Homo sapiens: one gene and its partners. The protein of the gene in region 3 purifies or fractionates together with the protein of the main gene of each other region. This does not show direct contact. Each region holds a gene or a part of one and is shown on either strand. Other genes may lie near its edges. The genes, in order: IFIH1, ATAD3A and NLRC5.

Evidence for each region.
Region 1: the proteins of NLRC5 (region 3) and IFIH1 purify together in Homo sapiens (affinity purification with western blotting, with the first as the bait; one study listed by BioGRID). This does not show direct contact.
Region 2: the proteins of NLRC5 (region 3) and ATAD3A purify together in Homo sapiens (affinity purification with mass spectrometry, with the first as the bait; one study listed by BioGRID). This does not show direct contact.

What each region holds. Positions count from the first base shown.
Region 1 is NC_000002.12:162,284,058-162,287,784, reverse strand, and holds part of IFIH1 (interferon-induced helicase C domain-containing protein 1), read left to right. Parts: intron 1-3,727.
Region 2 is NC_000001.11:1,532,008-1,535,246, reverse strand, and holds the end of ATAD3A (ATPase family AAA domain-containing protein 3A), read right to left. Parts: intron 1,322-3,239; coding exon 1,175-1,321; 3' UTR 562-1,174; downstream 1-561. UniProt on the Homo sapiens protein: Essential for mitochondrial network organization, mitochondrial metabolism and cell growth at organism and cellular level. May play an important role in mitochondrial protein synthesis. May also participate in mitochondrial DNA replication.
Region 3 is NC_000016.10:56,988,278-56,992,356, forward strand, and holds the start of NLRC5 (protein NLRC5), read left to right. Parts: upstream 1-1,279; 5' UTR 1,280-1,340; intron 1,341-4,079.

The DNA of each region.
Region 1 (3,727 bases), on a different chromosome or scaffold from region 3:
CATTGCAAATGAATATGAATGACCCCAAAATATCACTGGAATCAAGGATCAAATATTGTTTTTTACTTTCTCTTTAGCTGTTGACCCTTAGTCAAAGATGGCAAGTCCTCTTTCTCCAGAATACATATAATGTGGTTTGGAGATAAAATTAAGTGAAGGTTTGGTATCTACATCAAGTTAAATAGATTTTAAAATGCTCAAGAAGTATACATATATATATATAAAATATACACATATTACATTAAATGCAACTGAAGTTTTCCTTCAATAATTTATATCTTAGGGTATTTGAAGGCCATCTTCATAAGTAAATATGTCTGCTTCACCGTAAAACAAAATCTAGTCATTTGAGCTTTATTCAGATAAATGACAGTTTATTAATTTATAAATATACAAATTGGGGATATGAATATTTACTATTTTATGGAATAAAAATGAGCATACTTTTCCTTGATCAGAAAGTCTTTTTTCTGTTCTTATCTATTCCTTTATAAAAAAAAGCAGTAGACTGTAAAATATTCTATTTTTTATTTCTATTATGCTAAAAGTTTTAGTTACATCCTGTTTTTCAGTACTTAGAATCCATGATTTGAATGATTCCTATCATGTAGTTCCAAATGCATTTTGTGTGCATCTGCTAAGTCCAAAGAGCTCTCCTTTATACTTGTATACTTACTATTAAAACACTTTTATTTATTTTGCTGGTAATGGTGACACATTCAAATTTGTTTGCCGATAGACTTGCATATGTATTCCCTTTGTACAGGATATTATTTTTTTAAATGAAATAGGTTTGAATCCTATTTCTACCTACCGGTACTTTGAATTAGACAAATTAGTAACTTCTCTAACTTTAATTTCTTCATCTGCAAAATGAACAAAATAATAACTACCCTGCTCTGAAATTTCAATTGGATTATATATGGCCTAGTAATGACTCCTGCTTTTACTCTTAAATACTAGCTTTCTCCTGCTCCTTTCTCTTCACCTTCATAACTCATGAAACTAAGTAACATAACCAGGGAGGCTTTTAAGTGCCAAATCCAAAGAAAAGAACCAAGTTAACTGGATTCAAAGCTACTTAAACTGATAATTTTGAAACCATTTGAGCATCTGCCATTTTCTCAAACTCAGCCTCACCATCTACCCTCCCAAAGGCTCCTCTTCCCCATTTACCTGTCTCTTTGTGAGTAATACCACCTCCTCCAAAGCATGCAGCCCCCACACCTAGGAGTTAGTTTTAATTCATCTACTTCCTTTATTTCCCTTATCTGGTCACAGGGACATAGGCTAATAGAGTTGAAAAGGGGCTTCGAGATTCAGCTTTCTTCCTTTGCAGAGTGGTTCTCTCACTTCTGCAGGGTAACTTCCTAATATCAAGGAGGTCCCCCTACTAACAAGACACTGACACTCTTAGAAAGCCCTATTTGTATTCATCCAAATCTGTTTCTCTGGAATCCCACAATCACCGGTTAGAGTTCCTTCCTCTGCAACCACACGAAGTCCTAATTCTCCAGCCTAATGACAGCCCTTCACATAGACAAGGCAGCATCATGTGGCTCCTAAGTTACTTTTTTTTGTTGTTCCTTGGAATAAATGTCCACAGTTCCTTTAACTGTTTTCCATATAACATGGTTTCTAAACCTGTCATCATTCCTAGTGCTCATACTCCTTCAGACATTTTTCTGGGACACTCTTAAATGCGGTGTCCAGAGTTGGGCAAAATACTACAGATAAGATCATACCAGTGCAGAGCGTAGGAGACATGAGATATGACACCCAGCTTATGACCGCATTTGCCTCTGGCATCCACAGACTTATCTGGACCTTGTCATAGAATCAAAATCCTCAGTTCCTTTTTATTTGAAAATCTCTTAAACTAGAACATTCTTAATTTATTTTTGTGCAGTCAGTTTCTGAGCCTAAATTCAAATACTTAGGTTTATTTCTTTAACTATTGATCTTTTCAAGTCTCATATTTTTGTATGTGTCTGATGCATCTTCCTTTCTATAATATTCCCTTCTCTTCTCAATGCTATATTCTAGCCAGGAATCTTTCATTGCATTGGATCTACATGATTCTTCGGAATGCACATTTATGGCTATGTTTAAATATTAATTTATCCTCATTAATTATTCACATTCACTGCATTGTTGTGTGGACACCTGGGGACTTGACTCTAATTCCTTATTGCTTTTCTATTGTTTTTCTCCTTAGAATTACTAGAAATCCCTCCACTAATTCTTCCATCTATGTCATAATTGTTTACTATACCATCTTTTTGAATTTTAAATTAATTTCAGTTTTAATTCTTTTTGATTGAGTCAGAACACCTCTGGCCCAGTAAGTCTAAGTAACCTGAATCTTGTGTTTGGCCCAACAACAAGGTATTGTTACCCTTGATCTAGAAAAAAGAAATCCTGTTCTCTAACACCATTTACTTTCATCTCCCTTCCTCCGTCCTTTCCAAAGTTATAGCCTTCGAATGCAGAGAGAAATGAAAACACCACCTGTGTTCCCAGACTTTCCATTTCCTATCTAGGGCTTCAACATCATGAGAGATAAATCCCAGGTTCCTTCAGATGCTGCAATGCAGCCCCATATGATTCAGCAGAAGTGGGTAGCAGTTGGGTTTGATTAGTCTTGGCAGGCACTCTGTCACATCTCAAGAAAAGGCTCCAAGAGGACCACACACCTCCCAATTAGCCATGTCAGACTTGCATCTGGCTTTCTCTGTGTCCTTCAGTAGGAAGTCAACACCACCCAGAGCGAGTATCAGGATTTCCAGCATCTGCTATCTCCTGTGACAACTTCTTTTTGTTCTGTACATCAGAAGGTGCGGCTTCTTTTGAAGATTTTTGACTCACCTTTTATGGGCAGAATTTTGTGGTGCAATGTCACTCCATAATACAGAGATTCTTAATTAAATCATTCAGCATGAGTGTATTTAAAGACAAATCAAATGTAGATCTTGTCCTCACGAAATATACAGTCTAGAAGAAAGATGAGAGATATATGTTGATAATATGATAATTAATATTTTATTGCACTTTATAAAGCACTCTCAGATATATTATCTCATTAAATCTACACAGCAACCCCATAAGGTAGTCTTTATTATTCTCATTTTTTCCCATCAGAAAACTGAAGTTTCAAGACTTTAATTGGCAATTCAGGGATCATCCAGCCAAGAAACAGCAGAAATGAGACACGAACTTTTATCTTCTGAGTCCACTGGTCTTCCTTTGCCACTGCACCCTCCTTCTAGAATAAAAGGATTGGTGAAATATCGTGGAAGTTTTAGTACTGACAATACAGCATCCTCTATTTCATTTAATTTTCACAACCCTATAATAGGTTAACATTATCCTCATTTTATTAATCTGGAAATTGAGAGCATTAAGATGATTGAGACCTTGTCCAAGGTACAAAGAAGTAAGTGGCTGGAGTAGCTGTTTTCAGGGCTTTCTTCCCTCTGCATCATGCTGTCTCTTTCCACTAAACTTAATTTCCATTCTTTTCCTCAGAAGCCTTCTGTCTTGCATAAATGAAATGGAAAGAATACTTCTAGAAAATGATTCAAGAACGGCTTTGTGGAAGAGAGAGAGAAGAGCAGAGCTGTGACTCTCAAATTTTAAAGGCTTAAATGTCATTAAAGTGAAGGTTTCAAGCCTCTGCCCCCCAGAGATTGTCCCTAGATTCAGTAATTCTTGAGTGGGACTTAGG
Region 2 (3,239 bases), on a different chromosome or scaffold from region 3:
TGTCCGGGGCTGTGGCCGGCCGGGAGAGTCCAGTGGAAGGTGCTGTCTCTTCTTTTTATAAAGGGGGTTGGGGTGTGGGCTAGGGTGGGGGTTGGGTTAGGGGAGACCCTGCAGTTGGGGGGCAGGACACAAGGGCGGACTCATCCCCAGCGGTGCTGGGGGGCAGGGAGGGTCCTGGGGGGCAGGGAGGGTCCTGGGGGGCAGGTGGGGGCAGGGGCGGCGAGGCGCGCGGCCCGGGCCAGCATCTGTTTGAAGGCGCTGTTTCCCGTGCGCTGCGTCCACCGTCTGTCTGGCCCCAGCCAGCTTGGGCGGAGGGGAGGGGGGCGAGGGGAGCACCCGCGTGTGCACAGCCACAGGGTGGGGTGCAGGTGGCTGGGCCCAGGCAGCATTCAGGCCCCTGGCCCCGCAGTGGCGGGCACTCATGTGAAGCCCACCCCTCTGTGGTCAGTAAATTCTCCAGAAAGCGCCAGCCTCCGCCTCTTCTGTCACCTTTGACCCCAGGGGGACGCTAGGAGGCCCCCAAAACCCCACCCCGTGCCAGCCAAGAGACAGACAGGGCAATGAGGCACCTGTGGGACTTTATTAGGTAAACAGACCCCAGCTCCAGCCACAGGCTTGGACCGGCCAGCTGACAGTGCGGCCTCAGACACCCCCGCCAGGTTCCCTCCTCCCTCCTCTCTCAGGGTCACCAGTGTGTGAAAGATCGGGGCATGCCGGCCACAGGGGGAAGCAGGGTTCAGGCTGCCCCACCTGGGTCTGGCCCTGGCAGGCGCCCCCTCACCTGGCTCTGCTGTGGGAGCCGAGAACAAAGACATCACCTGCCTGGCTCCTGCTGCCCCGGGGGCTCAGCCAGCACCCACCCTCACAGTGGCCTGGGCAGGGGCTGGGGTGCAAAGCCTCACCCTCCCCCTGTGAGCCAGACGGAAAATGCATCTCCCAAGAGTGTCTCGAGGGGCAGGAAGGAGGCCTGCCCCTCCCTAGCCAGTGCCTACAACAGGGGGTGCCCTGGGGGGCAGAACGGCCGACCCGCACCACAAGACATCCTGGGGGACAGAGGCCCTGGGCACAGCCCAGTCCCCACCCAGGAGCATATCCTAAATGTGCAGGGGCCGGCAAGGCAGGGGTGGGAGGGGTCCGCGGCCAGGCTCCGTGAGCTGTGGATCTCCCTGTGGACTCAGGATGGGGAGGGCTCGTCCCCACGCCCAGGCCCTTCCGCCTTCAGCCAGCACATCTTCTGCTGGTGCTGCTGGACAGCATCTTGCACGCGGGTGTCCATCATGGCCTCGGTCAGGACCCCGTCCTCGGAGGCATACGCCGTGGCCTAGTGGGGAGAGAGGCAGCTGAGGGAGGCCGCCATGGGAACCCCCCACCCCAAATGCACGCCAGGGCCCCGAGGTGGGGAGGGACCAAACCAGGGGCTCCAGGATGGCCTGAGCGTGAAACACAGGCTTCCCGCACCTCGGCAGAGCCCAGCACGTGTGTGGACACCGGGAGCAGCCCCTGCAGTGCCCACAGCCCTGCCTGCGTCCTCAGCACTGCTGTTGCTCAATGACTTTCTAATAATAGAAAGCCCAAGGCGGAGCCTCACTGACCGCCGACCCAGGGCAGCTTCCGAGAGGCAGGTGGGAACTGCAGACCCTCTGCGAGTCTCAGCCGTGGCCAGGCAGTGCCCCCGGGTCATAGTGCACCTCAGACCCTCAGACCCTGACCCTCACAGGCCTCCAGGGCAGAGGCAGCCACTGCCCACCTTGAGGCACATGAGTGGTGGCACCAAGGCCACCTCTGCCCCCACCTCCCTGTCCTCCTGAGCACAGGGCTTGGCATCTGGCACGTGAAGGCTGGAGCTGCTGGGGCTGTGGCCCTTGGTGTGGCTTCAGGCAGCCTCAGGTCCAGCCCTTCTGCAATGAACGGGTCACTCTCCATCCCAATGCCAGCGAAGGGCGTGGAGTCCCCAAGGGGAGGCACCCGTGGGTCAGGGTCAGGGTCAGGGTGTGGGGACCCCCACTGGGCACCGTGCTCAGGAGCGCACCAGGACACCTGGAGGAAGCACAGGGCAGGGGACCCTTCCTGGACAGCTGAGTGGGTCCCTCGCCCCGTCCCAGCTGTACCTCCCAGAGGCAGGATTCATCTCACGGGGTGCAGGGGCAGCAGCACACCATCCTCCCACAACACCGTCGCCACGACGGAACCTGCCATGGGGATGACCACGTGGTGCCCGTCCCCTCTGCAAGCGCCCACCCCTCACCAAGAGCCACTGTGTGGGGAGACACTGACCGGAGCCGGACCACCACTGTGGGTCGGGGGCCCGGGAGCGCAGGAGACACTGACCGGAGCCGCACCGCCACTGTGGGTCAGGGGCCCCGGAGTGCAGGAGACACTGACCAGAGCCGCACCGCCACTGTGGGTCAGGGGCCTGGGAGCGCAGGAGACACTGACCAGAGCCGCACCACCACTGTGGGTCCGGGGCCCAGGACTGCTCAACATCATTTTTGGTCTTGAGCGCACCCAAGAGAGGGCAAACAGGTGCAGGGACCCTCAGGGTCCACCCGAGTGGCTGCACCCCACCCAGGGCCCAGCAGAGGAAAGGGGCTATGCAGATGCTCACGGGGCCACCCCTCCAGGAAGCACGGGACCTGGCAGGAGCCCACCAGAAGTGACAGCTAAATGTCACGTGGCGTCCTGGGTGGGATTCTGGGGCAAAACCCAGTCACAGGTGGGTCCAACAGTGACACATGATGTTCACCACGTGGCAAGGTCCCAGGCCCAGGAAGTCTCTGTGCTACTCTTGCAACTTTTCTGGGAACCTAAAATCTTCAAACTATAAAAGTTGAAAGACAAGACCTGGACCTGATGTCTTCACATGTGAATTCACAAAACATTAAGAAGAATCAGTATCACTCCTCAAACTCTTGGACAAATTGAAGAACATTTCCTCACTCATCCTAAGAGGCCAGCATTACCCTCATATCAAAGCCAGACAAAGACACCACAAGAAAAATGACATGCCAATATCCCTGATAAGCATCGTTGGAAAAGTCCTCAACAAAATGCCAGCAAAACCAATTCAGGAGTATAATAAAAAAATTATACACCCTGACCAAGCAGGATTTATTCCTGGAATGCAAGGATAGTTCAACGTACAAAAATCAATCAATGTTCCACATAAAAAATGTTCAACATACAAAAATCAATCAATATTAGCCGAGTGGAGGAAGGAAACTACATGACCCTCTCATCTG
Region 3 (4,079 bases):
GGATGTCTGGGAGGTGAGTGGAAGGCCTTCCTAGCAGGCACATACTGGAACATAATCAATCCCTCCCATGCATACAGCTCACACCCACATTCTTATCCATTCCCACCATGCCCCTCAGTGGCCTGGGGAGACTAGGAATACCCCACTTGACAGATAAGGAAGCTGAGGCCAGGGGAGGTCAAGGCATTTGTCTGAGGTTGCACAACCAGGAGTGGTGAAGCTGGGAGTCACACACAAGGAATCACTGCAAAGTCTGTGTCCTTCCCACTCTGAGTAGGACTTGAACCAGGGATGTCCGATGCTGATGCTTGTGTCCTGACCACTACCTTGCAGCGTCCTCACCCACACCCACCCCAGGCCTGGGAGGCAGGGGAGCACCAGCGGTCTGGGAGTGAAAGTTGCTTCCCTGTGGGATGTCTGGGAGGTGGGTAGAAGGCCTTCCTAGCAGGCACAGCTGCCCACCGGATGAGTATGTCCAGGGGGAGAGGAGCCCCCTGTCCCAGGATGTGGGCAAAAACCTGGAGAAGCTGAAGCTGGACTTTGAGGATGGCCCCTGACTCCATCCTGGGACAGCCACCTCCCCTTCCTTCTGCCCCCTCCAGTCCCTCCTCTCCTTCCCTGCTCTCCCTCCTACCTCTTTCCATCTCCCCCTTTCTGCCTGTGATTCCTCCTGTGACTGGGGCAAGATCCTTCACCTCTGTCCTCCCTGAGCCTCAGTGGCTCACCTGGAACATAGGGTGATGCCTGCAGAAGTATTTTAGGGTTACTTTATGAGATAAATTGGTAGACTGTTTTTCCCGGGTCAGCCAGCCAGGGGTTCGGTGAATAGGAGCGAACGCTGCTGCCATTCCCTTCTCCCCTAGTTCATCCTGGAGGCTCTCCGCTCTCCCCCTGGTTCTAAGTCCCCTCCTCCTGCACCGTATCCCCCCTCCCATCCAACCCAGTCCCCACTGAGGCACTGAGACAGGGTCTTGGCCCAGGGTCCCCACCCACCTGAGCTCCGCATGTGAGCCGACCTTCACCCGCCTGCCTCAGTTTCCCGTCCACGAAAGGGGTGAGCGCCCCCACGTCTCCTGGGACTGTCCTTGGGTCCGATGCGGGGCTGTGGGGAGGTGCCAGGGTGTGGGCGCAGCAGGGAGCGGGTGTGTTAGGCCCCCGCCCATCCCGCGCCCGAGCCCCATCTGGCTCGGGCTGGCACCTCGAATCCACGTGATTTCTCGGCAGCAGCCGCCAGTTCCATGCACTGGCGGAGCAGCTCTAGGCGGCGGCTTCTACTTTCAGTTTCGTGCAGAGCGCGGAGGAGCCGCGAGCGCTGAGGGTGAGTGCCGGGAGCTCTGAGGGTGAGTGCCGGGCGTGCCGCGGGGCTGCGGGACCCGGGCTGGGGCGAGCGGAAGGGAGAGGATCGGGGTTCGAATTCTGCACGGAGAGGGGTGGAGGGGATGTCAGAGGCCCTGGAGCGGGAGGTGCGGGTGGCCGGGTGGCTGGCCGATGGATAGCTGGGTAAGCGGACAGGGCGCCAGTGGCCCGGCAGCGCGCACAGCATGCGCCCCGGCAGTTTGGAGGAAGAGTTGCCGGCCCGCAGAGGATGGCAGATGAGGGTCGCCTGGATGGGGGGACACAGTAAGCGGCTGTGCTCCCCTCCCTGCGCAGCTCCTGTCACCTACCGGATCCACCCACTCTCTCTGTCTTTTACTTTGCAACTTTTCATTGATTTTAAAACAATTACGGAAGTTACACTGTTCATTGTACGCAATTTAGACTTTTTGGCCTAAACAACTTTTTATTGTGGAAAATTCCAAACATATACAATAGTAGAAGGAATAGAATTAGGTTGAGCCTTCTGCACCTGCGGGTTTTCATATAATGAAGCCCCACCTATCCACGTTCAGCTTGGACAGTCACGACCCCAAGGCCACCTACTCACGACCCCAAGGCCACCTAGGTAGCCCAATCTCCACCGCTGGTTATTTTGAAACAAATGGCAGACAGCATAGCATCTCAACTGAGGTATTTCAGAATGTACTAAAAGATAAGGCATCTTTTAAAAACAAAACCACAGTACCACCAGCATACTACAAACATTTTAATAGTTATTCCTTAATGTCAAATCTCCAGATTATTTCTAAGGAACATTTAACCTCATAAGTGATAGGTGAATACGTGGGTGTTGTTTTGTTACTTGCTTTCTGCATTCCCATGTGGTTTTCGGTCACTATTCTCACCCAGAAAGCCAGGACCTGAAACTGGCTGGGGTGATCATTCGAGGAGGTCGGAAGAGGCTCCTACCTTCAGTGCCGTTTGCGTCCATTTTATAAGTTGGAGTTCTTATGTTTCCTTTTTTAAAAGGTTGAAGTTTCTGCAGACCTAAAAAGCAGTTTGAAAACTGGCAGTTCCCAGCCTCTAAAACCCGGGGGTAGCAGGAGGCAGAGAGTACCCCGGGGCCAGATCCTGGAGCCTCATTGTCCCTTCAAATCACCTTCCGTTTCTCTAAGGGAGAAATAAACCTTGAAAAGCCATGGGCTTTTCAGATGTATCTAGATGTATCTGATGCTTTTCAGGTGTATCTAGACTCCCATCCAGCGTGCTTTCTGCAAAACTTACTGAACCATAGCCCAGAATGGCCATCCATGATGCCCACCCGCCTTGTCTCCTGAAGCACATTGCCAGGTGGACCTGCACATGGTGTGGACGGCAGACAGACTGGGGCTCTCAACAACTGGTATTTGCTGGATGACCATGAACTAACCATTCAATTTCTCGAAACTTTGGTTTCTCGTCTGTAAAATGAACATATGCAAATCTATCCTACAAAGTGTGTTTTGTGGATTGAATGAGATGATACACGCCCACCCAGTGCCTTGATCAACCTTAAAATGCTGCACAAGTGTGAGGGGAGATGGATCCTTGAAGAAGACAGACAAGCAGAGGGGAAAGATCTTGGAAGAGTTTCACAATATGCTGAACTTTATTCCTGGATCAGATACAGAGCTGTCCGGGTGTCCACAGGGCCGGGTCAGCCTCCTCAGACCCCAACACACATACCCTCTTCCCCTCTGAGGAAAATTCAGCAAAACTTCTTTTGCTGTTGTTGTTCTTTATTCCTTTTTTTTTTTTTTTTTTTTTTGACGAAGTCTCACTCTGTTGCTCAGGCTGGAGTGTAGTGGCACGATCTTGGCTCACTGCAACCTCCATCTCCTGGGTTCAAGCGATTCTCCTGCCTCAGCCTCCCGAGTAGCTGGGATTATAGGCGCCCGCCGCTACACCCAGCTAATTTTTGTATTTTTAGTAGAGATGGGGTTTCACTATGTTCGCCAGGCTGGTGTCAAACTCCCAACCTCAGATGATCCACCCGCCTCGGCCTCCTGTGGGATTATAGGCGTGAGCCATCTTGCCCGGACTCCTTTTTTTTTTTTTTTTTTTTTTTAATAGACATGAGGTCTCAAACTCCTGGCCTCAAGTGATCAGTCTGCCTCTGCCTCCCAAAGTGTTGAGATTATGGGCGTGAGCCACCACACCCAGCCATAACTTCTTAGCATGACTTTTCCCATTTGTTATGAGTTCAATTGTGCCTCCCCACAAAAGATATGCTGAAGGCCTAACCCTCGGCGCCTCCTAACGTGACCTTATTTGGAAATAGGGCTGTTGCAGATATAACTGGTGAAGATGAGGTCATACTGGAGTAGGATGGGCCTTGAATCCAATAGGACCGGTGTCCTTATAAGAGAGGAGATGGACACATGAAGACAGAGACATACGGGGATCAGACAATCATGGACGGAGGAGGAAGAGAGTGCGGCGATGCATCTAGGAGCCACAGGACACCTAGAATGGCCAGCAGCCGGTGGGAACCAGGAGAGGCAAGGACGGATCCTCTCCTCCAGCCTTCAGAGGGAGCCCGGCCCTGACCACACCTCGATCTCAGACTCTGACCTCCAGAACTGCGAGAGAAGAAATCTCAGTTGTTTTAATGTACGCAGCTTGTGGCACTTTGTGACAGCAGATACAGCAGTACTGTGACAACACTAGGAAACGAATACACCATCCCAGCATCTCTGCTCTGTTTTCCATACAGAATTGAA